Linked DNA regions of Homo sapiens. The protein of the gene in region 6 interacts with the protein of the main gene of each other region in a pairwise test. Each region holds a gene or a part of one and is shown on either strand. Other genes may lie near its edges. The genes, in order: USP28, RAI14, THOP1, SPARCL1, WHAMM, TTC3 and CKAP5.

Region 1 (3,978 bases), on a different chromosome or scaffold from region 6:
CACATTCTTTATGTCAGCTGAAGCCTTATAAAAACCTGCCAGTTTCAGTGAAAATTTAATGCCCTTTTTGCTTTCTCTTGATTTATTGACCTTTCGTTTCCTTTTGTCTCATTAACTGATTTTTAAAACATCAGTAAGTCAGTGATTGGTTCCACAACTCTCATGCCCCTCTGCCCCCAAATGCAAACAGTATTTTTTTTTTTTTTTGAGACGGAGTCTCGCTCTGTTGCCCAGGCTGAAGTGCAGTGGCGCGATCTCTGCTCACTGCAAGCTCCGCCCCCCGGGTTCATGCCATTCTCCAGCCTCAGCCTCCTGAGTAGCTGGGACTACAGGTGCCCACCACCACGCCCGGCTGATGTTTCTGTATTTTTAGTAGAGACGGGGTTTCACAGTGTTCGCCAGGATGGTCTCGATCTCCTGACCTCATGATCCGCCCGCCTCGGTCTGCAAACAGTATTTTTAAGACTTACTGGCAAATAGCATCTTACCAGGCGAGATCTCTCCATGTGTTCTGTTTCATCAAAGAAATTAAATCAATAGTAAAATGAAGCAAGTACTTAACAAGGAAAATAATGCTGGTAATAGTAATAGCTAATGCTAATTGAGCATGCACTATGTGCCAGACTCGGTGCTCAGAACTTAACATAGCATTCTCTCAGTACTTACACAACTCCATGAAGTTTCTATGAGAAGGCTTATACTTGTTAAGTAATTCGTCCAAGGTCACCCAGTGAGGATATGGTACAGTTGGAATTGTATCTAGGCAGTTCTGACCCCAAGAGCCCAAGGCGCCCCTGGTCCTATCTCATAGTTGATGGGCCCATTGCCCTGGATCACAGACTTTCCACTACTCTTATAATGCCTTTTCTAGAACTCTCCTAATGTTTTAAACTTCCAGTCCTCCCTACAGTCTTTCTAAATAGATAATCTTCTTTTCTACTTGACTGAGCTCGCTGATGTCTAAAAAGAGCTCCCTGCCTTCTGTTTTGTCCCCCTCTCCCTACGCCATCTCATCTCTTTTCTCTTATTTCAGTGGAAAAGGTTCCCTTCCTTTTTCCCCCTTTCATTTCTTAGAGATAAACCTAGATTAATGGTTTTTACTAGGGAGAGATTTTGTAATCTAGGAAGCATTTGGCAATGTCTGGAGACTTTGATTGTGACTCTGGAGGGAGGATGCTACTGGAATGTAGTGCGTAGAAGCCGGGAATGCTGCTAAACATCCTGCAGTGTACAGGAGTAAGCCCCTCTAAACAGAGTTATGTGTAAATTGTATAAAATAGTGCTGAGCTTGACAAACTCTGATCTAGATGATGTCTCTCTTCTCTTTCTATTATGTCCCTTCTCCTTAGTCCTAGTCTAACCCCCAGACACCTTCACTGTCTTCTCCCTTGCTACTCACATTATGGTCCACAGACCAGCAGCATTCACATCCCCTAGGATTTAGACATGCAGAAAGTTGAGTGTGCTAGAGCCAGCTTGCTCTGCCTCTCCAGCTGATTTTGTACATCTCTTTCCAGCTCTGTGTTCAATGACCTCGTGTTGATAACTGTGCCAAGGTGGGAATATTTATACCAAGGAAACAAGCATACACTGCCAATCAGCATACCACTGCCTGTACCCCCACTCTAGACCTATTCAATCAGTTTCTGCCTTTTGACAAGATTCTTGGGTGATTCATTTGCATATTACATTTTGAATTTGCATTTTCCATTTTACCGTGCACTTGTCCTCTATCTTGAAACCAAATAACAACAACAAAAGTGTCTATTGCCCAGTCCAGCTGTTGTCTCCACCTTCCTCCTCTTGTTTGCTTTTGGAACAAAGTTTCTAACCCCACCTGTTTCATTTCTAAAACATTTTTCCAGTGACAATGTATTCAGACTCAATATACAAAACTTGGAAAAGACAGACTTGAGCAAGACTAACTCTTAGCTGACAGGAGATTGAGGAAGGTTGGTTCCCAGATTCTGCTACAGAGCTTAAGGTGGCAATAACAGCTTCTGCAAAAGCCAAATAATGAGATGGCCGTGTGGACCAGTCTGGGCTCCAGCAAATGGCTGATTGTTCAGAGGCCTGCAGAGGGACTGACTAGGCAGCAGCAGGTTAGGTTGAAAGGCAGTGAGTGGTTTTATGTAATCAGAATCTGCTCAGCAGCCTACTTTGCCAAGGCAGGATCTCTCCCTCTGTCACCCAGACTGGGGTGCAGCGATGTGATTATAGCTCACTTTGGCCTTGACCTCCTAGGCTCAAGCGATCCTCCCACCTCAGCCTCCTGAGTAGCTGGGACCACAGGCGTGCATCACCGCACTTGGCTGTTTTTTTAATTTTTTATAGAGACGAGGTCTTGCTATGTTGCCCAGGCTGGTCTTGAACTCCTGGGCTCAAGCAGTCCTCCTGCCTTGGCCTCCCAAAGTGTTGGGATTACAGGCATGAGCCACCACACCTGGCCCCCTCATACTTTTATTATTTTATGCTTTTATGATCCCTCATTACCACTTTTTTGCTGTTACTTTTTTCTTGTTTTGTTTTTTGAGACGGAGTTTCGCTCTTGTTGCCCAGGGTGGAGTGCATTGGCACGATCTTGGCTCACTGCATCCTCCGCCTCCTGGGTTCAAGTGATTCTCCTGCCTCAGCCTCCCGAGTGGCTGGGATTACAGGCATGCACCACCATGCCCAGCTAATTTTGTATTTTTAGTAGAGACAGGGTTTCTCCATGTTTGTCAGGTTGGTCTTGAACTCCTGACCCCAGGTGATCTGCCCACCTCAGCCTCCCAAAGTGCTGGGATTACAGGCGTGAACACCTGGCTCCAAATCTACATTTCTAATCCTGAGTTGCAAATGACTTCTATACTCTGTTTCCCAGTGCTTTTTGAACAGGTCTGCTTGAATATCAACCTCCTTGGCTATAAACGTTTGCTTCATACTTATTTTCCCAGGGTTGTTATACTAGGCATGGGAATGTACACTTGTATTACTCGTGTCTGCCATATGCTATGTACCACCCTAAGCACTTTTCCATACATTTTTATTTACAAAAACCCAGCAAGGTGTGAACTATTACCCTATTACTGATGAGGAAACTGAGATGTCTTGTTTGTTTTTTGAGATAGGGTTTCACTCTGTCACCCAAGCTGGAGTGTGGTGACACCGTCAAGGCTCACTGCAGCCTTGACCACCCAGACCCAAGCAATCCTCAGACACTTGAGTAGCTGGGACCACAGGTATGCACCACCACACCTGGCTACTTTTGTTTTATTTTATTTTTTGAGACGGACCGCAGTCTGTTGCCCAGGATGGAGTACAGTGGCGTGAGATCAGCTCACTGTAACCCCCGCCTTCCGGGTTCTATTGATTCTTCTGCCTCTGCCTCCCAAGTAGCTGGGATTACAGGCACATGCCACCACGCCTAATTTTTGTATTTTTAGTAGAGACGGGGTTTCACCATGTTGGCCAGGCTGGTCTTGAACACCTGACCTCCGGTGATCCGTCTGCCTTGGCCTCCCAAAGTGCTGGGATTATAGGCGTGAGCCACCGAACCCAGCCTGTGGTTAATTTTAAAAGTTTTTTTAGCAATGGGGTCTCTCTGTGTTGCCCAGGCTGGTCTCAAACTTATGAACCAAGTCATCCTGCCTCAGCCTCCAAAAGTGCTGGGATTACAGGCATGAGCCACCGTGCCTGACCTCAGATGTTAGTATGCCTTATAAGGGCCTCATATGAGATTTATTTTATTTATTCCTTTTCTTTCTTTTGTCTTTTTTTTTTTTTTTTGAGACATGGTCTTACTCTGTCACCTAGGCTGGAGTAGTGCAGTGGCTCTATCATGGCTCACTGCAGCCTCAACCTCCTGGGCCCAAGCAATTCTCCTACCTCAGCCTACAGAGTAGCTGGAACTACAGACATGTGCCACCATGCCTAGCTAATATTTTTAGTTTTTGTAGAGATGGGGGGTCTCTTTATGTTGCCCAGGCTGGTTTTGAA
Region 2 (3,978 bases), on a different chromosome or scaffold from region 6:
TGAAATCTGCTACCAACATAAAAATAAATAATATGCATGCACAAGTATTCTCCTAGCAGCCCATGCTTTAATAGCAAGAAAATAAAAACACATGAGACAAAACCAGATTAGGTTGGTGTGGAGAACTGGGAAAGTAGAGGTTGAGGTCTACTACAACTTAGAATCCAGAATACAATCACAGCCAGCTTTCTGTATTAATGAAAAGCAATGGTATTTCCCACACGTCTGCATTACTTCCATTCCTTTTTTTAAAGACTATAAATATGAGGGAAAGGGATAACTTCATTTTTGAAGGTTACTGGTAAGTAATACAGTTAGCACATAAATTTAGTATTGAGTATTTGCTGTTTATGATTTCTTCAAGAACGTAGATGTGTAAATAAATAAACAACCAAACATATACTGTTCATCAAAAAAACAGATAGTGACAATATATTTTTAGAAAAAACTACACAATAACAGGGCAAACTCAATTTCTACTTTGTGTAACACCACATGACGTTCTAGAAAAACCCTAATTAAAAGAAAAGGCTAAATTCTCTTATTTTCATTAAATAGCTAACATTTTCTGGCTGAAGCTCTGTAGCTCATGTGATATTACAAGTATTTAAAACAGTGTTATTCAGTCACAGAGTTTAAGCCACATCAAACATTTTCACACCAATAGGAAGTATGAGTTAGTACATTTCAGAAAAAGATGAACATATAAGTAGCAAGTTTAAAGTTACATGCTTTTGAAATAAAGCAAATTATTAAGGAAAGCTTTACCACCTTTTTTTTTTGAGACGGAGTTTCACTCTTGTTGCCCAGGATGGAGTGCAATCGTGCAATCTCAGCTCACCGCAACCTCTGCCTCCTGGGTTCAAGTGATTCTCCTGCCTCAGCCTCCCGAGCAGCTGGGATTACAGGCACGCACCACCATGCCCGGCTAATATTGTAATATTAGTAGAGGCGGGGTTTCTCCATGTTGGTCAGGGTGGTCTTGAACTCCCGACCTCAGGTGATCCACCAGCCTCGGCCTCCCAAAGTGCTGGGATTACAGGCGTGAGCCACCGGCCCGGCCTGGCAACCTTTAACACCTTATAACAATGACTTATTTATTCAAAGATATTTCAGTCCCTAAGTATTTTCAATATAGTCTTTATTACTTTACTAGTGGACCAGAGTGGTTAAATCTGAACATTTTTAAATTCCCACAAGCATAAATGAAACATAGAAGCCTCCCCCAAAGATAAATACCTGCTTTGGTTTTGTTGGGGTCTTTAAATCTATAGAGGAAAAAGTGAAAAAAAGAACTATAAGAAGCATAATGATTCATATTCACTTTGGGTGGGGGGATACACACACATACACCATATACAATATTTTTTAACACTCCTTTTTTTTTCAAGAATATGTTTAAAAGAATAATAAAATATATCATATTGCACACATTCCTTTATCCTTTGGGGAAAATGGAGTGGATAAACTTAAAACAACATTGGCTATTTTCTTTTACATACCAGCATCCTGAGAGATTTTTGATAATAGAAGGCTTTGAATTCCTGCATTTTCTGAGAGTTTGGAATAATGTAAGGCATTGTATCCAAGAGAATCTACAAGGTTTAGGTCTGCACCCTTTTTAATTAAGGCTTCCACAGCGTTAGAGCTGCCAATCTCACAGGCCAGCATGAGAGCAGTTCTAAAGGAAAAAAGAGACACAAAATTAGTACTAAGAGAATGTAAAAAGTCTTTCTTGGGAAATCAGTTGTCTTAAAAAAAGAGAAAAGAAGATTAAGTGCAGTTAAACCTTTATTACACTTAATCTTCAGGGAATTCGAAGTGGAATGCAATCAAGATGAAATTAGGTGGTTTTTTTTTTTTTTAAACTTCAGATTAAATCAAAACATTAAACCACATTTTGTCAAACAACACAATCTTCTATACTATTTGGCATAATATGATGGGATTTAATATGACTGGCATGAATCTTATCCTTGTTTTACCTCAAGCATTTTAAATAACATATATATTTCTAAGACCATTTCTCCAAAACAACCAATAGGTTTGTTTTATTTTGCATAGAAAGTCACAGGAAATTGTTTATTCACATTAGCATTTAATAGTCTCCTCACAGACTTAGCCAGCAATGATGTCCACAGATGTCTGGGGAAAATTGCTTTAAAGTCAACATAGATTCTTGATTATCAGAAACAGTAGAACTTTAAAAAGGTAAGAAGTTAAAAATCCCTTATAACAAATGATCCAAAATATAGCTGTGATATTTTGAAATACTCTCAGAATGTGGGTATCACTGAAGTCACATGATTTCTGCCTAATTCTGGAGTACCTTCCACTTTTGTTCCTGGAATTGACATCTGCTCCATGATCCAGGAGAAAGTGACAGATCTCACTGTGACCATTTTGTACAGCAAGAAGCAGCGGTATATTCCCATCCTAGGAGACAAATTCAGATTTAGATTTTACCTCAGGCACAAAATGCCAGAATTGCAAAAGTCAGCCCCTGTTTTTTGCACATTTTTCTCCTGACTTGGACTGCTGACTGCTGATCTAGTATCTGGTCCAACCTGATATTCTGTACCCCTATAGAGTCACGATTGTATGTTGGCACAACTCTTGTTATGGAATTTTACTGAATGCTAGCTTTTACATAGGAGCTCCAGCTTCTTGCGGCTGCTTATGCCCTTGGCTATCACTGTTTGGGTGACTGTGAGAGAGGACAGAACACAAAGTGTGTAAAGGCTCAAGGCAAGTGTACCGGGTATACTGAGGGACGGTGCTGGAGAAAGGAAGGGCGTGTCTCCGCACGACACCAGAAGATCCCACTGCCCTGTAGGCAGCTTATTCCCAGTGCACTAATCATTATATATCCTGCCATTCCACTTTTACCGAAAGTGTACCCTTTAGTAATCTTGCTATGTATCAAAATATAACATAAATTAAGAGCCTATGTCTGTTACTAACACATGACTAGATAAAGAAATGGATAGAAAGAATAATTATGTCATGACAATTGCAACCCCTTTGGGAAAAAGGAAATCTAGGTCTCCAACTCATATACAAACTATGTCAGGTGGATTAAGCATTTAAACATTACAATATAAAACAAATGATGAAAAATACTAGAAGAATATACATAAGTATTTTTTGTAATCTTAGGTCTGACACAAACCATAAAGAGAAGTTGTTATTTTGTTTTTTTTCTGGAATATACCCTATAAATCCATCGACAGTGAGTTTTAAGGTAGAAGCATTCAATAGGCAAAGGGAAAAGATGTTACAATATATCCAACTATTTAAAAATACAAGTGCTACTTAAAGATTGAGTATTGTCATAAAGAATTTCAGATAGATTTCTGGGCACTATCTCTGTGAAGTTATACTACTTTCTGCTTAGGAAGTACTGAACTTCAAGGAATATGAATTTATTTACAGATTCTATCTAGTCACTTCACAGCATCTCCATCAAATATAAGTGTATGCATGTCAGTTCTCATGCTGCAACATGAAATATAACCCCATGACAGAACCATGTGATAGGTATATAAATTTATTCTCAAAGTAGCCTGGTGAAGTTAAAATAGCCTAGTAATGGTCTTCAAAGTTGGGAGATTCTACGTAGAAGTTATCCAAGTGCAGAAAGAAAGTAGTAAAATTTCTATTTAGACTTATTTTTAAAAATCAAGAAATTAAGCTTTATTTGTAATTACATTGATGGTAGAAAACATGTATAGCCGTAGAAATAAATATACCTATATAGGAAATATATGCTGCAAAATGTTTTACTAATGTTTTAGAAGCTAATTAACCTTCTTCCCAGTTTAGAAAAAAAAAAAAAAGTGCAGCTCTCTGCCAGAGCTCATTTAATTTTATATAAACACACTCTTTGAGGCTGAAGAAAATCTGACTGATTTTCAATGTGAAAATAAAATATAAAAACTGTTCTTGGAGTTATTTCTAAACAGAACTAACACCAGA
Region 3 (3,880 bases), on a different chromosome or scaffold from region 6:
AACCCTGAGAAGTGCATGCAGACCTGTCCCTCCAAGGGGACCCTGGTCACGTGTTCGCCAACTGATCATTCCAGAACCTTACTGTGTGTGTTTTGGGTTCAAGACACCTTACTGCTGTACAGCGCTGACGGGTTCACGTTGAACACATGGCTGGTGGCTCTGTCACCCACACCTGAGCACAGCTTGCACACACAGGGTGTCCCCATGAGGCACATCATGGCCTCCTGGTGCTGAAGGAGACGAGACAGTGCTCTGCACAACGCTTGGGGCCTTTTAAACACAAAATCACCAAGAGCAGAAAGATGCAAACACCGTGCCCCCACTAGACTGAGAAAAGGACGCTTGCTCATAAAATGAGCCGAAGTGAGAAGACAGAGTGCGGCCCTTCTGAGGACCGTCTGCTCAGGGGCGCCGCAGTGCTGGCCTCTGGGGTTTTTGTGGATCTTAGTAGGCGAGTTTGAAAACACGGAGTCCAGGAATGAGGATCGACCGTGTGTCCACCTTTCCTGGCTTCCCTGCCACACTGTTTGCACAGCACTCGTAGCCAGCACACGCGTGTGCACATCCACACAGGTGCTCACACAGGTGCCCACGCACGTGCCTGCAGGCCTGCTTTGCATGCTGCTTTCTGCGTGTCCCTGGCGCCTGGCACGGCGAGTCCCTTGGTGCATTCCGTCGGGACAAGGAGTGTGGCTGCGTGGTCCTTGGAACAGAAAAGCCTCGGTGTTGCAGAGAGGACCTTGAGGATCACCCAGGAGTTCCCTCGCCGTTGGCTGCCTGCCATGGTTCCAGCGGGACTCAGTCAAGGGCTGTGCTTTTAGGGAAGGTTCCACACACACACGAGCAGGGAGATGCAGCATGCCTCACAGCGTCCCCACCCGGACCTGGCCGTCCCCAGGTCCCAACCCCTCGGGGTGCGGAGCTTTCAGGGAGCAGCAGCTCTGTGGCTAGAGGAGAAGCGTGGGTGGCCTCCAGGGACGGGGTCATGTGGCCGGCATCTTCAGGTGTGTCCTGCTGCCACCGGCAGCCAGCAGCAGCCCAGGGGCCTCCGGGTCCCGGTCGTTTTCCAGTTTTGGGGTGGGAGGGCCGGGCCCAGCGCATCACCTGTGCACTCGCCCTGTTTGCACTGTGGCAGCTGACACGGGCCAGGCCGGCGGGAACGGGCTAGGCAGGACCTGGGCACTCTGAGGCTCTGCCCCATCCCTGCAGGCGGAGTTCGCCATGTTCAGCGGGACCCACGTGGAGCGGGACTTTGTGGAGGCGCCGTCGCAGATGCTGGAGAACTGGGTGTGGGAGCAGGAGCCGCTGCTGCGGATGTCGCGGCACTACCGCACAGGCAGCGCCGTGCCCCGGGAGCTCCTGGAGAAGCTCATTGAGTCCCGGCAGGCCAACACAGGTGCACCCGCCCCGTCCGGGGAAGGGTGCTAACCTCGGGGGGCGGCACACAGCTGGGGCCTGGCATGTGCCCCGGGTGGGGGTCGGAGCTCTGGGCAGAGTGGGCCGGGGCAGGTGCAGAGGCCAGCTCTCTCCTTCCCTCCCGCCCAGGCCTCTTCAACCTGCGCCAGATCGTCCTCGCCAAGGTGGACCAGGCCCTGCACACGCAGACGGACGCAGACCCCGCCGAGGAGTATGCGCGGCTCTGCCAGGAGATCCTCGGGGTCCCGGCCACGCCAGGTAGCCACCCTTGAGCCGGGCACACCCTGGAATTTGGAGCCTCAGCTGCTTCCCTGGGAAGGTGAAGGGAGTTGGTCCCCATGCTTCACTTAGCAAGTGCAGGAGTCCCTGCTGGGGAGCCACGGAGCGCGTCCCAGGCTCCTCGGGGGACAGCCCCAGCTGAGATGCAGCTGCAGGCCCAGGGTCGGGGACGGGTGTGCGGCCCCAGCCCCCAGGAGGAGTGTGTTCCCTGGAGCCTCTGCTTTGAATGAAGCTGGCGTTTTCCTGATTGAAATGTATGACACATGCTTTGTAAAAAGCCTGGAGAAGTACAGGAAGGCCTAGGAATTTCCGATCCTAATGATGAGAAGTGGGCCCTGTTTCCATGCTCACCTGTTGTCCTGTGTGCATGTGTGTTCACACACGCTTGCGAGGATCCAGAATTTGGAAATACAGCATGATTTTAACATGGGTGGTGTTTTGCTGGCTTAACACTCCATAGACTTCAAAAATCTTTCCAAAAGCGTTTTCAGCAGCGTGGCCTGTGATGTTGCGTGGGCGTGCCTTGCTTTATTGACGCAGTCTCAAAATGGGGACTTTGCTCTGTGGCAGCTGACAGCCCCGTTAAATGAGCTCCTGTCCTTCCAGGAGAGGGGGCGGAGACTTGTGGCCCTCGCTTTGTGGCTGACTCTGGTTCTAGAAGTATCCAGCTGGTCTCGGCCCTCACCGTGATCCTCCAGCTTCTCCCTGTTCCGGGCAGGGGTCTCAGGAGTCTGGCTGGTTGTCTTCTCCTGGAGGAGGAGCATGGGGTGGGGGCTACAGCGTGAACCCTGCCATGTGTCCGCCCCAGGAACCAACATGCCTGCAACCTTCGGCCATCTGGCAGGTGGCTACGACGCCCAGTACTACGGGTACCTGTGGAGCGAGGTGTATTCCATGGACATGTTCCACACGCGCTTCAAGCAGGAGGGTGTCCTGAACAGCAAGGTACGCGGGGACTGGGGACAGGGAGGGCGTCCTGAACGGCAAGGTACGCGGGGACTGGGGACAGGGAGGGCGTCCTGAATGGCAAGGTACGCGGGGACTGGGGACAGGGAGGGCGTCCTGAACGGCAAGGTACGCGGGGACTGGGGACAGGGAGGGCGTCCTCAACAGCAGGGTGGGGCCGAGAAAAGCACACCTTTGGCCTGGGCCTGGGTGTGCCGGGTGAGCCATCCCGGCCGAGGCACCTGCTGGTCTTGGTGCGGTGCTGCCCACAGCTCCTCCCTGGGCCCTGCAGGAAGCTCCACACTGGCCCCTCAGGCCTCGGGCTGTGAGTGCTGGGAGCTCCGTGTCTTCCCATACGAGTCCTTCCGGGATCTGCGTGATCGGCCTCAGAGCCATGGGCTGAGACAGACCCTTCTCTGGAGAAGGCTTGGCGTTTGCCATTCATTTGCTCCTCCAACCTCCAGTTTCCTCACTATGAAGTGCGGCCGTTACGCCATGTGAGCCTGTGCCTCCCGCTGACTTGGTGTGACCCAGGCTCGGGACAGCCGCCAGAGTCCCTCACAAGGAACAGGTGGCTACCAGCTTTGAGGGCCGGCCCTGCCCTGCCTGGGTGCAACATTGCACTGGGCAGCCTGCAGGTACCTCGGAGCCACCAAGCAGGCACTCAGCTGCTCCCTTTATAGAGGTGCAGAGGCCAGGACCTGGGGGAGCAATGGTCCGACAAGCCCCCTGTCTTCACAGCCCAGCAGGGACCTCCCCCCTCCTGAGGCAGCCTCCAGCAGCTCCCCCTGCTGCTGAGGTGAGGGGGTCCCACCTCTGAGGACCGGCCGGGGGCTGTAGAGGTGGAGTCCCCCGGGTGGGAGCTGGGACTGTGGCTCCCTGGCTCTGCAGCCTGCAGTCCGCGCAGGCTCCTGCGGGGCTCTGGGGCGTCGGGGTCTCCTTGGTGGCTGGCACCGGCGCCTCGCAGTCTCATCTGCCTCACCTGCCCGTAGTCCCGCAGTCACAGGGCTGGGCTCAAACCTGGGCCTTTAGGGCGGCCCAGAGCGCGAGCGGCTTCCACATTGTCCAGCCGGAGGCTCAGCCACTTCTGTTCATGGGCTCAGCCTGGGATTTCAGTGGGGGCTGATGGCGGGAGCCACCTCGGGAGTTTGGGGAGTTCGGGGCTCTGCTGGCCCCTCAGTGCACACCCCCGCTCTGAGATTCTGATGAAAGGCACCTGCGCTCTCCCACCTGTGCTGAT
Region 4 (3,978 bases), on a different chromosome or scaffold from region 6:
CATCTGTTTAGCAAAATGGGGATAATAATACACACAAATGAGGTCGTTGTAGGAATGAAATGTGATGTTTATTAAATGCCAAGTATAGCACCTGGCAGAGAAGTAAACACATAGGAAAGTTGACTGGTTGCTCATAAGGAATCTCGTATATCAGTGAGGCCTCTGTTACATACTTGCAATGATTTCTCTGGTAGTAACAATGGAGATCAAGAAGGAAATATTCTTTGAATTGCCTTTTTTATCCAAAGAAATGTAAAAGTAAATCGGACACTACTATTTTCCCCTGGTGGGGGGCCTCAACACGAGGTATTTATTACTATGAGACTTCACTGCTGCATCAGTTAGTAGCTTCTTAATGGCCAAGTCAAAGGAAACCAAAGAAAGTGTTCTATGCCAGCTTGCCATTACACAGAGTGAGAAGAAATGCTGCTTTGCTGTCAATTCTGTTTTATTGGCCCACTTGGACAAGAGGGAAAGCCCCCAACATTTCTTCTTTCTTATCTCTTCTAAAGGCAAGAATAGGGCTTTTGACTTGCTCCAGGGGATATTTTTTCCTCTCTAACTGAAATTCAAGTGAAAGAGTCTTTTTTTTGTTTTTTTGTCTTTGTTTGGTGTTTTTGTAAACCTCTCCCCTATGTTCCTAGCATTGAAATGTAAGCTGCTTTTTCTGGCTGCATGTAGCAGGAGCAGGCTGTCGTCATAGCAATGAAAGGGTGTAGAGAGACTCCTGCTTCATGACCTGCTCTGGGAAATAACTCTTAGTCTGCTTTAAAATCCTTCTTTAGAAATGAAGTCTCCAGTCCTGGCTTGTTTCCTTCCTATTACACAACCAACTTATGTACACCCATTGCAGTAGCTAAATGTTTCCTTTAAAGATTTAGTGAATAGGTATTTTAAAAATCAACAAGAGAGCTGCTAAAACAGTGGCTAGTTTACTGTGGCATACAGGGGAAAAACAACTGGGAAGGCAAAGAAAGAGAAATAGAAATGGCCTCACATGATACACATACTGCAGCAAACCCTGCAATAAATCCATTTTTCAAGTTCCCACTGCTTCCTCCCATCTTCACGATGTGCTATGGTGTAGTGGTTATAGAGGGGAATTCTGGGGCAGACTGCCTGGACTTGAATCCTGGCACTCATACCTTCTAGTTGTTTTAATCTAATCCATTCTGTGCCTCTGTCTTCTCATCTGTGAAATAGATATAATAACAGTCATAAAATTGTCATGGGAATTGAATGAGATTGAGCATGTAAGGCATTTATTACAGTATCTAACCCATGGTAAAGGTTGGCTGCTAAGCTCAGGAGCCTCAGTTTCCCCCACTTGTGAAATGTGGATAACAGCTAATTCATAAGATCATTGTATTTTTTTTTTTTTTGAGACAGAGTCTTGCTCTATTGCCCAGGCTAGAGTGCAGTGACATGACCTCAGCTCACTGCAACCTCCACCACCTGAGTTCAAGTGATTCTTGTGCCTCAGCCTCCTGAGTAGCTGGGACTACAGGCATGTACTACCATGCCTGGCTGATTTTTGTTGTTTTAGTAGAGATGGGGTTTTGTCATGTTGGCCAGGCTGGTCTCAAACTCCAGGCCTCAAGTGATCTGCTTGCCTCAGGCTCCCAAGGTGCTGGGATTACAGGTGTGAGCCACCATGCCAAGATGATCATTGTATGATTAACTAAAATAATGAATGTACATGCTCAATAAGTAGTAGTTATTACAATTCTTTTTCATGGTTTTGTTATTGAAACAGCAAGGTTCCAGTCTAGGTCCTGCTGCTCACTTCGTAGAAAGCCAATCACTGAGACAACAAGTATTGCCAATGAAGAAGGCTTTAATCAGGTGCTGCAGCTGAGGAGATGGGAGCACAGTCTCAAATCCATCTCACTAACTGACTTAAACTAGGGGTTTACATAGCAAGGGAAAAATGTAACAATGTGTAAGAAAATAAGAACTAGGTAGGGGTAAGGAAACAATCATGGTGAATAAGCGGTCAGGCATCTGCTGCAGTGATCTGGTGAGTTTCCATTCTTTTATACTTTTTTAGAAGCCTGAAGGTCCTGTCCTGAGGAAGGAACTTAGATAAAACAAATATAAGTTTCACACTTTAAGACCAGGAGGGTCAACTTCTATGTTTTTCAAAAAGATCTGTCTGTGGGACTATTGGGTAAGTTTCAGTTTGATCTAACTCTGACATGAATGGCCTTTTTGAACTTAGAATTCCCAGTGAGTCAAATATAATGAATAGAGGCCTCAGAATTATCATTGCATAAATGTGAACCATTTGATTTCTACAGGGGGAAAAAAAAGAATTGTGACTTTTTACATTTATAAAGACTCATCTCATCTTGATTAACACCAGGGTAAAAAGTATTAAAACATCTTATCTTTCATTAACTTTTTATTACGTTTCTGTTTCAGTTCCTCCAGTGTTTTCTAGGTCATGCAATTATGAAAATAAGTTAGCATTTTTATCTTACATCTCAAACAACTAATGTATTCAGTGTTCTATCCCATGCAAAATTCCAGAAATGCAGCAAGGAGCAAAACTAGAGAGGGGCTGAGCTCTTGTGGTGCTTACTATGTAGTTATGAAAATGGTCATTAATCAAACCATCACAATAATGAAAACTGCATAGGACCAAACATAAGGTGCCCCCAAATACAATGCCATCTTCATCTTTCTAGTGAGAACATCCTCAACCAAAGTGTTTGGCCAAACAGCATGTACAAATGGGTAATATATTGTAATGTACACTTGGGATATTTAATCTATGGTTCACATACATATTTAATATGTTACTTTAATTTAAATATTTTATACTTATTAACATGACTTTTTCCTTTCTCACATTTCATGAAACAATTTTGTTAAAACTCTTCATACGCATCTTTAACACCAATGTGTATGTTCACTGGATCCACGCTGTAATTATCTAATACAGAGCACATCATCAATCCTTCTGCAAGTTGCTAAACATCTGCTGATGCTGCAAATTTAATCCCCAGGCATTAGTCCTCACTCGTGGTCATGTTCTCCACACTTTCATTACTGACTAGATTGTTTTTCCAGTGCTTTTTAAAGGGCGTATTTAAAAACCACTTGAAACTGTAAGTGTGGCTTTCTAAAACTATGTGATTCCAACTTGCAATAATGAAGTCATACCTCAGGAATAATGACTAAACCTGCTTTAAATATCTTTATCTATTTTTTCATCCATTTTGTCAAGGTGACCTTCCTAAGAATAAAAATAAGCATTGCTTGAGATTTTTTTTTTTTTTGAGACAGAGTCTCATTCTGTCACCCAGGCTGGAGTGCAGTGGTGTGACCTTGGGTCCCTGCAACCTCTACCTCCTGGGCTGGAGCAATTCTTCTGCCTCAGCCTCCTGAGTGGCTAGGATTACAGGTGTGCACCACCACGCCTGGCTAATTTTTTGTACTTTTAGTAGAGACAGGGTTTTGCCATGTTGGCTAGGCTGGTCTTGAACTCCTGACCTCAGGTGATCACCCACCTCGGCCTCCCAGAGTGCTGGGATTACAGGCATGAGCCACTGTGCCCAGCTCTTGAGATGATTTCTAATTGTTTTTTTGAATAGTACTTTGCTGCTCAAAATGAAGAAACTTTGGAAGCACTTGAATATAAGTCAAATCCCTCTTTTTTACGGCAGGATTTGGTGGCGTGAGAAAAAACACATTTTATTTGAACACATGCCATATATAATGATACACTGAAATAAGTGTTATGAAGGCAAAACACCTTTGTTCCAAGAGAGTATATAAGGATCCTGACCTCCACTCAGGATCAATAATGGCTTTCCTTGATCTGAAGTCTGAATAGAGGTTAACTCTGTGTGTGTGCGTGTGTGTGTGTGTGTGTGTGTGTGTGTGTGTGTGTGTGTGTTTGGTGGTGGTGGCTGGGAGGAGCGGGTGCTGGAGAGAGAATTCTGACAGCGTGAACACTTGTGCAAAGACCCT
Region 5 (4,599 bases), on a different chromosome or scaffold from region 6:
AATATACAAGAAAGATATTTAAAACAGACTGTTAAAAATCATAAGTAACTCATATTAGTTAAAATAGTATATTAAAATAGGGGAAAATCAATCACTTCAGCTAAAAGTTTATCTCTCCAAGAAGACTGAGTGACTGAGTCCCAGGGCCCAATCCCCAACCCTCACACCGGCAGCAGGCATAAAAGGGGAGGGACCTTCAGACAAAGGCACCTTTCCATCTTCAAGTTGCATTCCACAGAGGTTCCTAGATTTCTTGAGGTCATTTTCAAGGCAGAGAGATGCCCTAACTAGAGCTTTAGCTTCGCCCTGATTTTTTCGTTTGCTTATTGTTTACCCTTGGGGATAACAGCAAGTACAAAATCTGATTCCAACTTTTCCCAGCTCAAAACCTTCACAAACACTTTCACTTGTTCCCGAATCAACACCTCACAGGCCTTGCTTTGGCAAACGGCTCCTGATCCCAGCTTCCTGGCATCTCCCTCCTTTCCTCCTCCCATTCCCACCACCTGTCTCAGTGCACTCCCAGGATGGGAGCTGACATGGACTGTATTTCTCAGTCTACACTGCACATTTCCTAGGCAGAGACTAGGGCCGTCTTGGTGCTTGTTGCATGAACAGATTTAGCTCCACCCTGACACGTAAACTGGATTTCCTGATATCTCCTTAAACAGGCCTTCCGTAGCCAGGGGGGCATGTCGAGCCCGAGTGTCGGTGTATCTTAAGTTTGTCTGGGCCTCCGTTTCCTTAACTCTAAAGTGAAGAGTTAGAACACAGATTGTATTTAAACACCCTGGTTGGGAGCTGCAGTGCCCTGAATTCCCCCTCTTACTCCACCCCCTCAATACTGACACACAGCCGACACTCAATAAAAGTTTGTTGAATTGACAAAAATAAATTTGCGGCTTCTTGCCCAGTACTTGGCACTTAGAGGCCCTCAATAAATGACTATCGAGTTTATATTTCATCTCCCCAACGCATTTGTGACATTCTTAAGGGCGTGAACCATGTACTCAATAGGGCCCTGATGATAGAAAAGAAAATCAGCTTGGTCCCTGTTCTCAAGTTCATAGTTTAGTGTGGGAGACTAATACAATAACTCGCCGATTCAACAGATATTTTTCCAACGTCCGTATGTATTGGGTGGAAAAGGTGAGGCAAGAGTTGTATTTCCCAGACTCCTGAACAGGTTGCGAGATGATTGACTCCTGAGGGAGACCTTCTCACCTTTTCATTGGTTGTCGCTGGCCCTCTCGTCTATCACCCAACCAACCCCGAATGCCTCTTGTAAGCCCCACCTCCGGCAGCCAGCCAATCAGAAGTGCCGGGGGCCAGGGTGCTGCTGGGGCACTGACGCGGTTTCGATTCTAGCGAAAAATGATTTGGCTCGGACTGTCCCGTGACAGGCGGTGCGAGGAGGCCAGGCCCGCGCCCGCCGAGCCCTAGGGCCGCTGCTGCCGACAGCCATGGAGGACGAGCAGCCTGACAGCCTGGAGGGCTGGGTGCCGGTCCGGGAGGGCCTCTTCGCCGAGCCCGAGAGGCACCGGCTGCGCTTCCTGGTGGCCTGGAACGGCGCGGAGGGCAAGTTCGCTGTGACTTGTCACGACCGTACCGCGCAGCAGCGGCGGCTGCGCGAGGGGGCCCGGTTGGGGCCCGAGCCCGAGCCCAAGCCTGAGGCCGCCGTCTCCCCGTCCAGCTGGGCCGGCCTGCTCTCGGCCGCGGGGCTCCGCGGCGCGCACCGGCAGTTGGCGGCGCTGTGGCCGCCTCTGGAGCGCTGCTTCCCGCGGCTGCCGCCGGAGCTGGACGTGGGCGGCGGCGGGGCCTGGGGTCTGGGGCTCGGGCTGTGGGCGCTGCTGTGGCCGACGCGCGCGGGTCCCGGCGAGGCGGCGCTGCAGGAGCTGTGCGGGCAGCTGGAACGCTATCTGGGCGCGGCGGCCGACGGCTGCGGCGGCGCCACAGTGCGCGACGCACTCTTCCCGGCTGAGGGCGGCGCGGCCGACTGCGAAAGCCCGCGCGAGTTCCGGGAGCGGGCCTTGCGCGCGCGGTGGGTCGAGGCGGACGCGCGGCTGCGCCAGGTAAGCGAGGCCCGGTCGCCGGCGTTCGTCCGCGCTTCCATGGCCTGGGACACTGTGGGAGGCTCCCCCGGCGCCGAGAGCCCTGGCTGACGGCTGACGGGGAGGAGCCGGCGGGCGGAGAAGGCCGCGGGCTCCCCAGTGCCGTCACCTGCGCGGGACCGCTGCGGGAAACCGGCGGGAGCTGCGGGAGGGTCTGCAGAGAGGACAAGCGAAGTTAGAGCCTAGTGTACTTGCAGCTGGGAGCTGGGCTAGGCCCCCAACTTTTGCCCTGAAGATGCTGGCAGAGCAGGATGTTGTAACAGGAAATGCCAGAAATATTGCAAGCAAGACTGAAAACAACCCATCCATGTAGGAAAGAATAACACGGACTAAATGTAAGCAATTCCTGTGTATGAGGGGACGTCGCAAATGGGATAAAATGGTTTAGAGGAAGAAATGGCTTTTAGGAGATAGGGTGTTTTGTTTTAAGTAATATATACTTGGTCAAATGGAAAGCCGGCAGAAGGTGAACTTTATTCATCAGTTTGGAATGACCGCATTAGTGCCCTTTTAAGCTTGAAAGAGGTAGTTTGAGAGAGAGTAATTATTTGAGTGGTAAACTTACTGAACCTAAGGGGAGGGGAAGTACAAGTTCACAGAAGGGTTTAGGAGAAAATATGCCTTCTAAGTCCACACCCACAGTTTATTAAGGAGAGCCAGGCTGGAGTCTCGGCTCACTGCTGTTATTAACCTGAATGATTTTTTTCTGTGCATTCTTCTGAGGAAGGGGAAGTGAAGAGAAGAATTCAGCCTAAGCTAAATGTAGAATAAGCTTTCCAAATTAAAATGGTTTTATAAAAGGAGCTCGTTAGTGGGGTCATTTTTGTACTGTGGGTTTTATGTGTAAATATCTACACACCCACTTCTCGTGTTGATTTCACTTTAGAATATGAGGAAACCACAGGGGAGTTTCAGGCCAGTCAGCGTTTGATCTTCAACTTTATCGTCTTCACCTTAGGATATGAGGAACCCACAGGGGAGTTTCAAAAATGATATCATTTTGTATCAGACTTGTTTTTTACACACTCGGTTTCTCACAGAGATAGGTGGTTTCTCCTTAAAATCGAACATGTTTATGATGTATTTTACTGTAGTAAATACTATCAGAAAAGTTATAGTTTTCCCAAATTTAAGTTCACTCTGGGGTACTATAGCATGAATGTAGTTCATACTGTTGAGCTAGCCGTTCACGTTAGTGTAGTTCACATATTTATCTGGAACTTAAAAATGAGGGGTTGGGAGAGGAAGCTTAAATTCAAAACGTGTTCAAATATATAATTTTAATATTTAGAATGGAAAAGCAATTGATTCTAGAATTAGACCAATTGCTAGTATTGCTAGGATATATAAAATGAAGCTGAATGTTTTAACTCTGGAATTTTTCTGAATAGTTTAAGAAATAAGGCTGAAATGTATCACTTGCCTTAAGTTTACTTTTGCGTGTGTGTTTTGATTTTGTTCAGTGAGGCTTTCACTTAAAAAAAAAACCCATAATATTATTACCTGGATAAAAAACTATAGCTGAAAGTAGATCACTTTATCCTTAAGCAGAAGGATGGAAATAGGAGAATTTAAGAATGTATTGGTTGAAAAAAATCTATATTATTTGATTTTATTTCTCTTCTTCTGGGAGTAAAATAATTTCCTGCCAAGTGAGTCCACCTAGATTATACACTGTTCAGTTTATTTTCTGCCCTGCAGCAGAAGCAGTAACCAGCAGAGACTGGAACCACAGTTGAGGCTCTGTAAATGAGGTGACTGCTAAGGGCTTCATGGGAATATTAATCTGGGGCATTAAGAGAATCAACATGCTGAAGTACTTGGAGACAGCTCTGTAATGTTTTATGAGGTCTTTTTTTAAAATTTTTTTCGAGATGGAGTCTTGGCACTGTCGCCCAGGCTGGAGTGCAGTGGCGCCATCTTGGCTTACTGCAACCTCCGCCTCCCGGGTTCATGCTATTCTCCTGCCTCAGCCTCTCCAGTAGCTGGGACTGCAGGCGCCCGCCACCACGCCCGGCTAATCTTTTGTATTTTTAGTACAGACAGGGTTTCACCGTGTTAGCCAGGATGGTCTCGATCTCCTGACCTCGTGATCCGCCCACCTCAGCCTCCCAAAGTGCTGGGATTACAGGCGTGAGCCACCACGCCTGGCCCTTACGAGCTTTAAAAAGGAATACAGCCTCACAACACCTTTACAGTCAGAAAAGTGAAATGAAAAAATATCCACAACCTCAAACCTTCTTTTGGGTCCCTTTCGCTGCATACTTAGTGCATAGTTGAGATTAAACTTTGCACTCTGCCTCTCCATTTAATATTATAAAAGTGTCTTTTTTTTTGAAATGGAGTTTCCTTCTTGTTGCCCAGGCTGGAACCACTGTCTCCCAGGTTCAAGCGATTCTCTGCCTCAGCCTCCCCAGCAGCTGGGATTACAGGTGTGAGCCACCATGCCTGGACAAAAGTCTCCATATTATTAAACAATCTTCAGAAG
Region 6 (3,978 bases):
AGGCTTATGCAGACCACTGTTCTTATTGGGGAAAGAATGAGGCAGTTGTACTAGGCATCTGTTAACAATAGCAATTATTAAAGTATGGTAGAAATAAATTCTCACATTTTGTACATTTTCACATAATTAATTAACAATATAATGATATGAGTAAATAACTGTCACCTTTGAGTCACTTCTGCTATGTCTTTGTCTTACCTAAATTGAGTTTCTCTAGTGATATACCCTCTTTTAGTGGTCTTAACTATTCCCATCATTTTAAATACACTCTGTAAATTAGTCAGCTTTCCCTAGGATATGCTGAAGTGATGCAACCCAAATATCTTGTGGCATACATCAGAGAAGTTTGTTTTTTGCTTACATGACTTGTCCTGCAGTTCTGCAGTTGTTGGCTGGGACTGGGCTGTAGCAGCTTTATTTTGTGTGGCTCTATTCCTTGTTTCTCAATCTAAGTTGAAGAATGACCCTTTTCTGGAACATCTTCCTGTGTCAGAGGAAAAAGAACAATGTCCAGTCTATGAAGTGTTTGTTAAACCTTTTGTCTAGACATGTGTATGTCATGTCTGGTCACTTTGCATTGATGAAAACAAGTCACATGGTCAGACCCACACCTGAAAGTATATTTTTCCTACACGGAAGCCTTAAAATTCGCATGGCAGTGAGTAAGGATTTTCACCACTTGCCTGAAGATGGTTTTAGTCCGTATTTTGACTGTTCCTAGTGGTAAAAATAGTATACGTGTATAGATTTATCCCCCCTAGACATAACATTTTTCTTGTTTTTTTTTTTTTTAATCAAATAGGATTTTCTACAAGGAATATGTCTTACCCCTGACTGTGAAGGTGTCATTTCTAAGATTATCATCTTCAGCAGTGGTGGTGAAGTTAAATGTGAAGTAAGTAATAAAGGGGAAACCTTGTTAGATAGATAACCAAAATGTTTACACCTTTTGAAACATGATTTGAATTTGTAGATATCATGTAATTTGGATCTTTTCCAGGAAAGAAACAATTACTTCATTTAAGAAAATATAGGAAATACTGGGATGTGAGAATGCTTCATTGTAATGAAAGCATTCTTATATTCTTTTATTTCTTAATAGGAAAAGGAGGCTTTTTATATCTTAGTTTTACTATTTTTACTGTTTTTGATAACTTCATTTTCTTAATCCCGGTAAACTTTTGGGCAGTAGTGGGTGTGCAGGTTTTTAGGGAGGGGGAAGAGCGTCTTGAGGGATTACCTTTAACTTCATGACATGGGAATGGCAAGAGTGGGTAGTTGTAATAATATTTACACTTTATTAGATCGTCTGCTTACTCTTAATTTTTTAAAAACTTTTTCCTCAAGTGTGTCTACCCTCTTGTTCCTCTTCAGTAAATTATTTTGCTAAAGCTTTCTGGGCTTTTGTCTGGGTCAGAACATCATCACTGTTCTCTATCAAACTGAACATTATGTGTGCTTCTGAAATACTTGTTACTTGTGGTTTTGTGTTTTATGTCATGGGAGTATGAGACAAATTTTGGATGTCTTTGTTTTATTTAAAGTTTGAACACAAGGTCATAAAAGAAAAGGTTCCTCCAAGACCTATTCTGAAACAGAAATGTTCTAGGTAAGATTTTTAACAATCAATCAGTGGTTTGATGATGTCTCTTAGAATATAATTCTATTAAATGCAGATTTCTAAATTATGCCTTTTTAAAAATTGGCTGTGTATACATATATTCAAATAAGTGTTTTTTAAAATGATTTTTATGGAAAATTAAAACTTAAAGAGAACTAGCCTAGAATGATTAAATACTAAAAACTTGATTCAGAATTATTTATCTAGTGGTTGAATTTACAATTAAAATTATAACATTTGATGCTGTGAAATTACATGTTTGATTAATAGATTTGGCATTTATATAAAAACTATACAGTTTGCTCTCAGTTGTTGAAACTTTAATTCCAAAAGCATATTTTTCTTTTTATCTCTCTTCAGTAAACATTTTGAACCTATGACTATTTTTTACCCTGAAATACTCAATGTACTGTCTAAATTATTACTTCTCTATAGCTTTTTGTTTAGATCAAATAATTCAGATTCTTTTTTCTTTTCTTTTTGGTCCTGCTTCTTGTTTTTCTTTCTAAGAAGTGATTTTTTTTTATCATTTGTGACCAAGAAAAAGCAAAAGAAAAGATGAACAGAATTATTTGTTGGAGAGAATTCATTGTAACCAGATCAACCAAATTATAGTGTTGTGGGTTATTATTGAGATGTGAAAATTATATTTTACTATGGGACCTTTCTTAGAAATGAGAGTTTACATGAATTATTTTGCAGAGTAATTTGTACTATTTCTGTTTACCCTATGAAGTAACTTAGATACATGAAAGTGACATCTATACAATCTGTAGACTGCATCCTTAGACATCACCTAATCATTGAGGTTTTTGTTTTCATGAAACAAGTACCCTTATTTTGACAATACTGACAGTTTCTTACATTGAATGGAAGATGTAGGCCGGGCTCTGATTAAAAAAGGAAAACTTCTAATATATTGCTTGGAAGATGGTTTCTACGATAGTCAAAGGAAAACAGTTCATTGAGTTGTCACTAATTGTAAATGTTTATCAGCCTAGAGAAACTAAGACTGAAAGAAGACAAAAAATTGAAGAGAAAGATCCAAAAAAAAGAAGCAAAAAAGTTAGCACAAGAAAGAATGGAGGAGGACTTAAGAGAAAGTAATCCACCCAAAAATGAAGAGCAGAAAGGTATGCAGAAGCCAAAGGCATGATAAGAATAATATACTCTCATTTAAATGTATAAATGTAAGCATCTTTTGGGCCTTATATTCATCATTATTGAATTGAAATAAAGATTTCACTTAGTAATTTAATACTATCACTGTCTTCTGTTACTCGAAGACAGAATTGGGTTGGTGTAAAGAACACTGAAAAACCTTTCAGAGATTGTATTCCCACTGAAAAACCTTTCAGAGATTGTATTTTAACTTTCTGTGCTTAATGACTAAACATATTTATTGTATATAAAGTTAAGGTAGTTGATGAGGCTGGGTTAGGATTGTTGAAGGAAGTGGCCGTATTTTAGGGGAACTAAGTTGTTTTTTTTTTTTGTTTTTTTTTTTTGAGACGGAGTCTCACTCTGTTGCCCAGGCTGGAGTGCAGTGGCGCGATCTCGGCTCACTGCAAGCTCCGCCTCCCGGGTTCACGCCATTCTCCTGCCTCAGCCTCCCCAGTAGCTGGAACTACAGGTGCCCGCCACCATGCCCAGCTAATTTTTTGTATTTTTAGTAGAGATGGGGTTTCACCGTGTTAGCCAGGATGGTCTCGATCTCCTGATCCACCCTCCTCGGCCTCCCAAAGTGCTGGGATTACAGGCATGAGCCACCACGCCTGGCCTAGAGGAACTAAGTTTCAAATGCTACTACATGAATGGTTCAGAATGAAGGGTGTAAAATGCTTACTTTTGGTATGTTTATTTTAGCGTACACTTTCATGTCTTTTCAAAAGTATTGTTAAGTGTTTATATTTCTAATTAAAGTTTCTTGAGTTTAGTAAAACAGTATAATCAATCTGAATCATATTTTATATTATGTAATTTTGTTATTTCTAAGTTTATGTAATTGTGAATTAGTCCTATTTATCACTTTAACCATTGTTATTTATCCTTAGAAACTGTAGACAATGTTCAGCGTTGTCAGTTCCTTGATGACAGAATTCTACAGTGTATAAAGCAGTATGCTGACAAGATTAAATCCGGCATACAGAATACAGCCATGCTTCTCAAAGAATTGCTTTCTTGGAAAGTTTTGAGCACAGAAGACTATACAACCTGTTTTTCTAGCAGAAATTTTCTAAATGAAGCAGTGGACTATGTTATTCGCCACTTGATTCAAGAAAATAACAGAGTAAAGACAAGAATATTTCTGCATGTTTTGAGTGAGCTTAAAGAAGTGGAGCCCAAATTAGCCGCCT
Region 7 (3,978 bases), on a different chromosome or scaffold from region 6:
CAGTAAAATGATTTTTGACAAGGGTACCAAGGCGGTTTAATGGGGAAAGGACAGTCTATTCAACAAATGGTGCTGGGAAAACTGAATATCCACATGCAAAAAGAATGAAGTTGGACACCGTATATAAAAATAAAGTCAAAATAAAGACATAAATGTAAGACCTAAAACTATAAAATCTTTAGAACAAAATAGAGGGCAAAAGCATCATAAGCCTGGGGGCAGTGGCTCAGGTTTGTGATCCCAGGAATTTGGGAGGCGGAGGCAGGAGGATTCATTGAGCCTAGGAGTTTGAGACCTGCCTGGGCAACACAGTGAAACCCGTCTCTACAAAAATATTAAAAAATAAAAAATCAGCTGTGTGTGGTGGCACGTGCTTCTGGTCCCAGCTACTCAAAAGGCTGAGGTGGGAGGATTGCTTGAGCCTGGGAGGTATGCTGTGATTGTGCCATTGCACTCCAGCCTGGGGAACAGAGTGAGACCTTGCCTCAAAACAACCCAATTCAAAAATGGGCAAAGAACTTGAGTAGATATTTTTTTCCAAGAAGAACTATACAACTACAGATTGCCACCTGCACATGAAAAGATGCTCAAGGCCAGGCTTGGTGGCTCATGCCTGTAACCTCAGCACTTTGGGAGGCCAAGGCAGGAGGATCACTTGAGGCCAGGAGTTCAAGACTAGCTTGGGCAACACAGCGAGGCCCTCTATAAAAAATTTTTAAAAATAAGCTGGGTATGGTGGCAAGTCCCTGTCATCCTAGCTACTTGGGAGGCTGAGTGAGGAGGATCACTTGAGCCTGGGAGTTCCAGGTTGCAGTGAGCTATAATCGCACCACTGCCCTCCAGCTTGGACAACAGAGCAAGACCTTGTCTCTAAAAAATATAGAAAATAAAAACAAAGTAGTCAAATTCATAGAAACAGAAAGAAGGGGCTGGAAGAAGCTGAGAATGGGAGGATAGTTAATTGATTCATAGAGTTTCAGTGTTAAAACATGAAAAGCATTACGGCAATGGATTGTGGTGATGCTGCACAACATTATAAACATACTTAATATTAATGAACTGCACATTAAAAAGTTAAGACAGACCAGGCACGGTGGCTCACGCCTGTAATCTCAGCACTTTGGGAGGTCAAGGCGGGTGGATCACCTGAGGTCAGGAGTTCAAGACCAACCTGGCCAACATGGCAAATTCCCATCTCTACTAAAAATACAAAAATTAGCCTGGCATGGTGGCACGTGCCTGTAATTCCAGCTACTGGGGGGCTAAGGCAGGAGGATCACTTGAACCTGGGAGGCGGAGGTTGCAGTGAGCCAAGATTGCATCACTGCACTCCAGCCTGGGCAACAGAGCGAGACTCCATCTCAAAAAAAAAAAAAGTTAAGATAGTAAATTTTATGTTAAATTGACAAAACACACTTCTGTGCCTTCATCACCATTTTTATCTCTATTAAAGCTCCAAACAGCTGAATTTATTGCTGGAATATCCTATCTTCATTAACAGATTTTCTGCTGTATTTTTAATGTGGCCAATGAATTCATTTCTCAAACAAAATAATTTTAGAGGAACAACCACGAACCTGAGACTCAGACCCTTCCTTACTAACTTCTATTTTTAAATAATCTATTAACCTTAGCAGCAGGTGCCTTTTTTAGAGGTCCTGGTTTGGGTGCAGAAATGTCCTTTGTGTCCTTATCTCCTGCAGCCCCTGAAGCAGCAGTCCTTCCAGGCAGAGGTTTGAATTCCTTCTTATCAGCAGCTAGTCCAGCTTTCTTACCATGTATCAGTTCTACCTTTTCTGAACATTCTTTGATCTGGAGAATGAAAGTGAGATGAACATCATTAAGCCCAACTTTGAAACACAACCACTACGTTATTACATTTCTAAACCACAACTACACATAAGAATTCAGAGAAATGGCCAGGCAAGGTGGCTCACACCTATAATCCTAGCACTTTGGAAGGCCGAGATGGGTGGATCACTTGAGGTCAGAGGTTTGAGACCAGCCTGGCCAACATGGTGAAACCCCATCTCTACTAAAAATAAAAAAGTTTAGCCGGGCGTGGTGGCAGGCGCCTGTAATCCCAGCTACTTGGGAGGCTGAGGCACGAAAATCATTTGAACTCAGAAGGCAGAGGTTGCAGTAAGCTGAGATTGTGCCACTGCACTCCAGCCTGGGTGACAGAGTGAGATTCATTGCCAAAAAAAAAAAAAAAAAAAAAAAATTTTCAGAGAAAAAATTTCCCTTTCAACAAAAAAGATAAATTATCTACACTTTTTTGGCAGTAGATAGACATACGTAAGATATTAATCTTACATTTTATTTCTTTACAAATTAGAATTGTAATAAACTTAAAATGACCACATTGTTTATGGAAGACATTCACATATAAGAAGGTAATTTTCTGGACCTTAGAAATAAATTTATCTCACAGAACTGTTTTCACCTTCTCTACAGATTGGTCACTCAGCTTTTTTTCGGTTATAATTTGAAAGCTATTTCTACAATTATCACCATCATAGCCTGGAATGAAACTTAAATTCTCAAAAGCTAAGTTTTCAAACTCGGTCTGAACTATCAGTGGAGGATGAAATAAATTTCCTGAGGTGATATCAGCATTTTTTTCTTAATAAAACAACAGACAAAATTGAAGACAAAAAGTACCAGAGAGCATCCTCCAAAACTTGTTTCAATTATGCATTTCTTTCCTACTATAAATGGCAATTTAAAAAAAATCAAGAACTCCTCATCAAAACTACCAGTACTCTATAACTGTCAAGAGACAAAGCCATGATGCAAAGAGACAGGAATGTTGTCCAATTTCAGTCCAATCCATTACTAACCTACCTTATCAAGCTTGAGTTTGTCCACATCAGCTAGGAATGGGTTTACTGCTTTCTCGCCAACCACCTTCAAAGCAGTACCCAATGCTTCAAATGCGGCATCTCTGACTTCAGGAGCAGAATCATTGATGTGCTATAGTCCAGAAGTAAGCAAAATGATATTAATGCAAGGTATTTTAGGCATTACTCATTTTAATTCAGACTGATGGTTGCTAGATAAAGAATTTGCTTTTTACAATTTACTGGAACTAAGTATAGCTTTCCTTGTGCCAATTGACAGTTACTCTTTCAAAAATTCTTTTTGGGCCAGGCACAGTGGTTCATGCCTGTAATCCCAGCACTTTGGGAGGCCAAGTTCGAGACCAGTCTGGCAAACATGGTGAAACCCCATCTCTACTAAAATACAAAAACTAGCCGGGCGTGGTGGCACATGCCTATAATCCCAGCTACTCAGGAGGCTGAGGCAGGAGAATTGCTTGAGCCTAGGAGGCAGAGGCTGCAGTGAGCCAAGATTGTGTCACTGCACTCCAGCCTGGGCAACAGAGCTAAACTCCATCTCAAACAAAACAAAAACAACAACAACAAAAAAAAAAAAACAAAAATTTTTCGGGTTAAGGAAACCCTTGGTAATCCATTTAGCAAATAAGTATTTCCTTTTCCTCTTACCCTCTATCTAAAATAACTCACTCCCAAATGATCTTCAAATACTCCACATTTGATGCCTATGCTTGGCCAGATTCAGCTGAACACCAGTATATGGGACAAGTAAGAAACAACATGTTTAACAGTTAATGGAATCATAACACTAACTTGTGCTTTCTTTCAAGAAGAGGAACACAGGAGAATTTGGATTCAGTTTCCAAGCTGCAAAGGCTCTGCTCCTCAAAAGATCATAACCTCTATAGTCTGAAAGTCAAGTAGTCACTGTACATAATTTGCAGGAAAAGAATCTTGCCTAGGTATAAAATATTCCCCCAACTTCAAAGAGAGTCTGTACCTTAAGTAGTGCAGCACAAAAGGGCTTTAGCAAGCTCTTTGGCAGGGTAGAAGCAGTGCAGTGGCGGAAACTTCTTGCAATAAAAAGAGATGTCTGCTGCTTGATGGTTGGATTTTTATTATCCATTACTGCTAAAAC

Evidence for each region.
Region 1: the proteins of TTC3 (region 6) and USP28 interact in a two-hybrid assay, tested with the Homo sapiens proteins (one large-scale study listed by BioGRID and IntAct).
Region 2: the proteins of TTC3 (region 6) and RAI14 interact in a two-hybrid assay, tested with the Homo sapiens proteins (one large-scale study listed by BioGRID and IntAct).
Region 3: the proteins of TTC3 (region 6) and THOP1 interact in a two-hybrid assay, tested with the Homo sapiens proteins (one large-scale study listed by BioGRID and IntAct).
Region 4: the proteins of TTC3 (region 6) and SPARCL1 interact in a two-hybrid assay, tested with the Homo sapiens proteins (one large-scale study listed by BioGRID and IntAct).
Region 5: the proteins of TTC3 (region 6) and WHAMM interact in a two-hybrid assay, tested with the Homo sapiens proteins (one large-scale study listed by BioGRID and IntAct).
Region 7: the proteins of TTC3 (region 6) and CKAP5 interact in a two-hybrid assay, tested with the Homo sapiens proteins (one large-scale study listed by BioGRID and IntAct).

What each region holds. Positions count from the first base shown.
Region 1 is NC_000011.10:113,868,716-113,872,693, reverse strand, and holds part of USP28 (ubiquitin carboxyl-terminal hydrolase 28), read left to right. Parts: intron 1-3,978. UniProt on the Homo sapiens protein: Deubiquitinase involved in DNA damage response checkpoint and MYC proto-oncogene stability. Involved in DNA damage induced apoptosis by specifically deubiquitinating proteins of the DNA damage pathway such as CLSPN.
Region 2 is NC_000005.10:34,809,470-34,813,447, reverse strand, and holds part of RAI14 (ankycorbin), read right to left. Parts: intron 2,437-3,978; coding exon 2,330-2,436; intron 1,682-2,329; coding exon 1,503-1,681; intron 1,269-1,502; coding exon 1,240-1,268; intron 1-1,239. UniProt on the Homo sapiens protein: Plays a role in actin regulation at the ectoplasmic specialization, a type of cell junction specific to testis. Important for establishment of sperm polarity and normal spermatid adhesion.
Region 3 is NC_000019.10:2,809,095-2,812,974, forward strand, and holds part of THOP1 (thimet oligopeptidase), read left to right. Parts: intron 1-1,209; coding exon 1,210-1,396; intron 1,397-1,545; coding exon 1,546-1,674; intron 1,675-2,503; coding exon 2,504-2,640; intron 2,641-3,880. UniProt on the Homo sapiens protein: Involved in the metabolism of neuropeptides under 20 amino acid residues long. Involved in cytoplasmic peptide degradation. Able to degrade the amyloid-beta precursor protein and generate amyloidogenic fragments.
Region 4 is NC_000004.12:87,522,567-87,526,544, reverse strand, and holds part of SPARCL1 (SPARC-like protein 1 isoform 1 precursor), read left to right. Parts: intron 1-49; exon of another isoform or gene 50-1,192; intron 1,193-3,978.
Region 5 is NC_000015.10:82,808,264-82,812,862, forward strand, and holds the start of WHAMM (WASP homolog-associated protein with actin, membranes and microtubules), read left to right. Parts: upstream 1-1,364; 5' UTR 1,365-1,463; coding exon 1,464-2,072; intron 2,073-2,197; exon of another isoform or gene 2,198-2,446; intron 2,447-4,599. UniProt on the Homo sapiens protein: Acts as a nucleation-promoting factor (NPF) that stimulates Arp2/3-mediated actin polymerization both at the Golgi apparatus and along tubular membranes. Its activity in membrane tubulation requires F-actin and interaction with microtubules.
Region 6 is NC_000021.9:37,149,276-37,153,253, forward strand, and holds part of TTC3 (E3 ubiquitin-protein ligase TTC3), read left to right. Parts: intron 1-802; coding exon 803-895; intron 896-1,544; coding exon 1,545-1,609; intron 1,610-2,617; coding exon 2,618-2,754; intron 2,755-3,675; coding exon 3,676-3,978. UniProt on the Homo sapiens protein: E3 ubiquitin-protein ligase which catalyzes the formation of 'Lys-48'-polyubiquitin chains. Mediates the ubiquitination and subsequent degradation of phosphorylated Akt (AKT1, AKT2 and AKT3) in the nucleus.
Region 7 is NC_000011.10:46,793,965-46,797,942, forward strand, and holds part of CKAP5 (cytoskeleton-associated protein 5), read right to left. Parts: coding exon 3,841-3,978; intron 2,977-3,840; coding exon 2,848-2,976; intron 1,813-2,847; coding exon 1,630-1,812; intron 1-1,629. UniProt on the Homo sapiens protein: Binds to the plus end of microtubules and regulates microtubule dynamics and microtubule organization. Acts as a processive microtubule polymerase. Promotes cytoplasmic microtubule nucleation and elongation. Plays a major role in organizing spindle poles.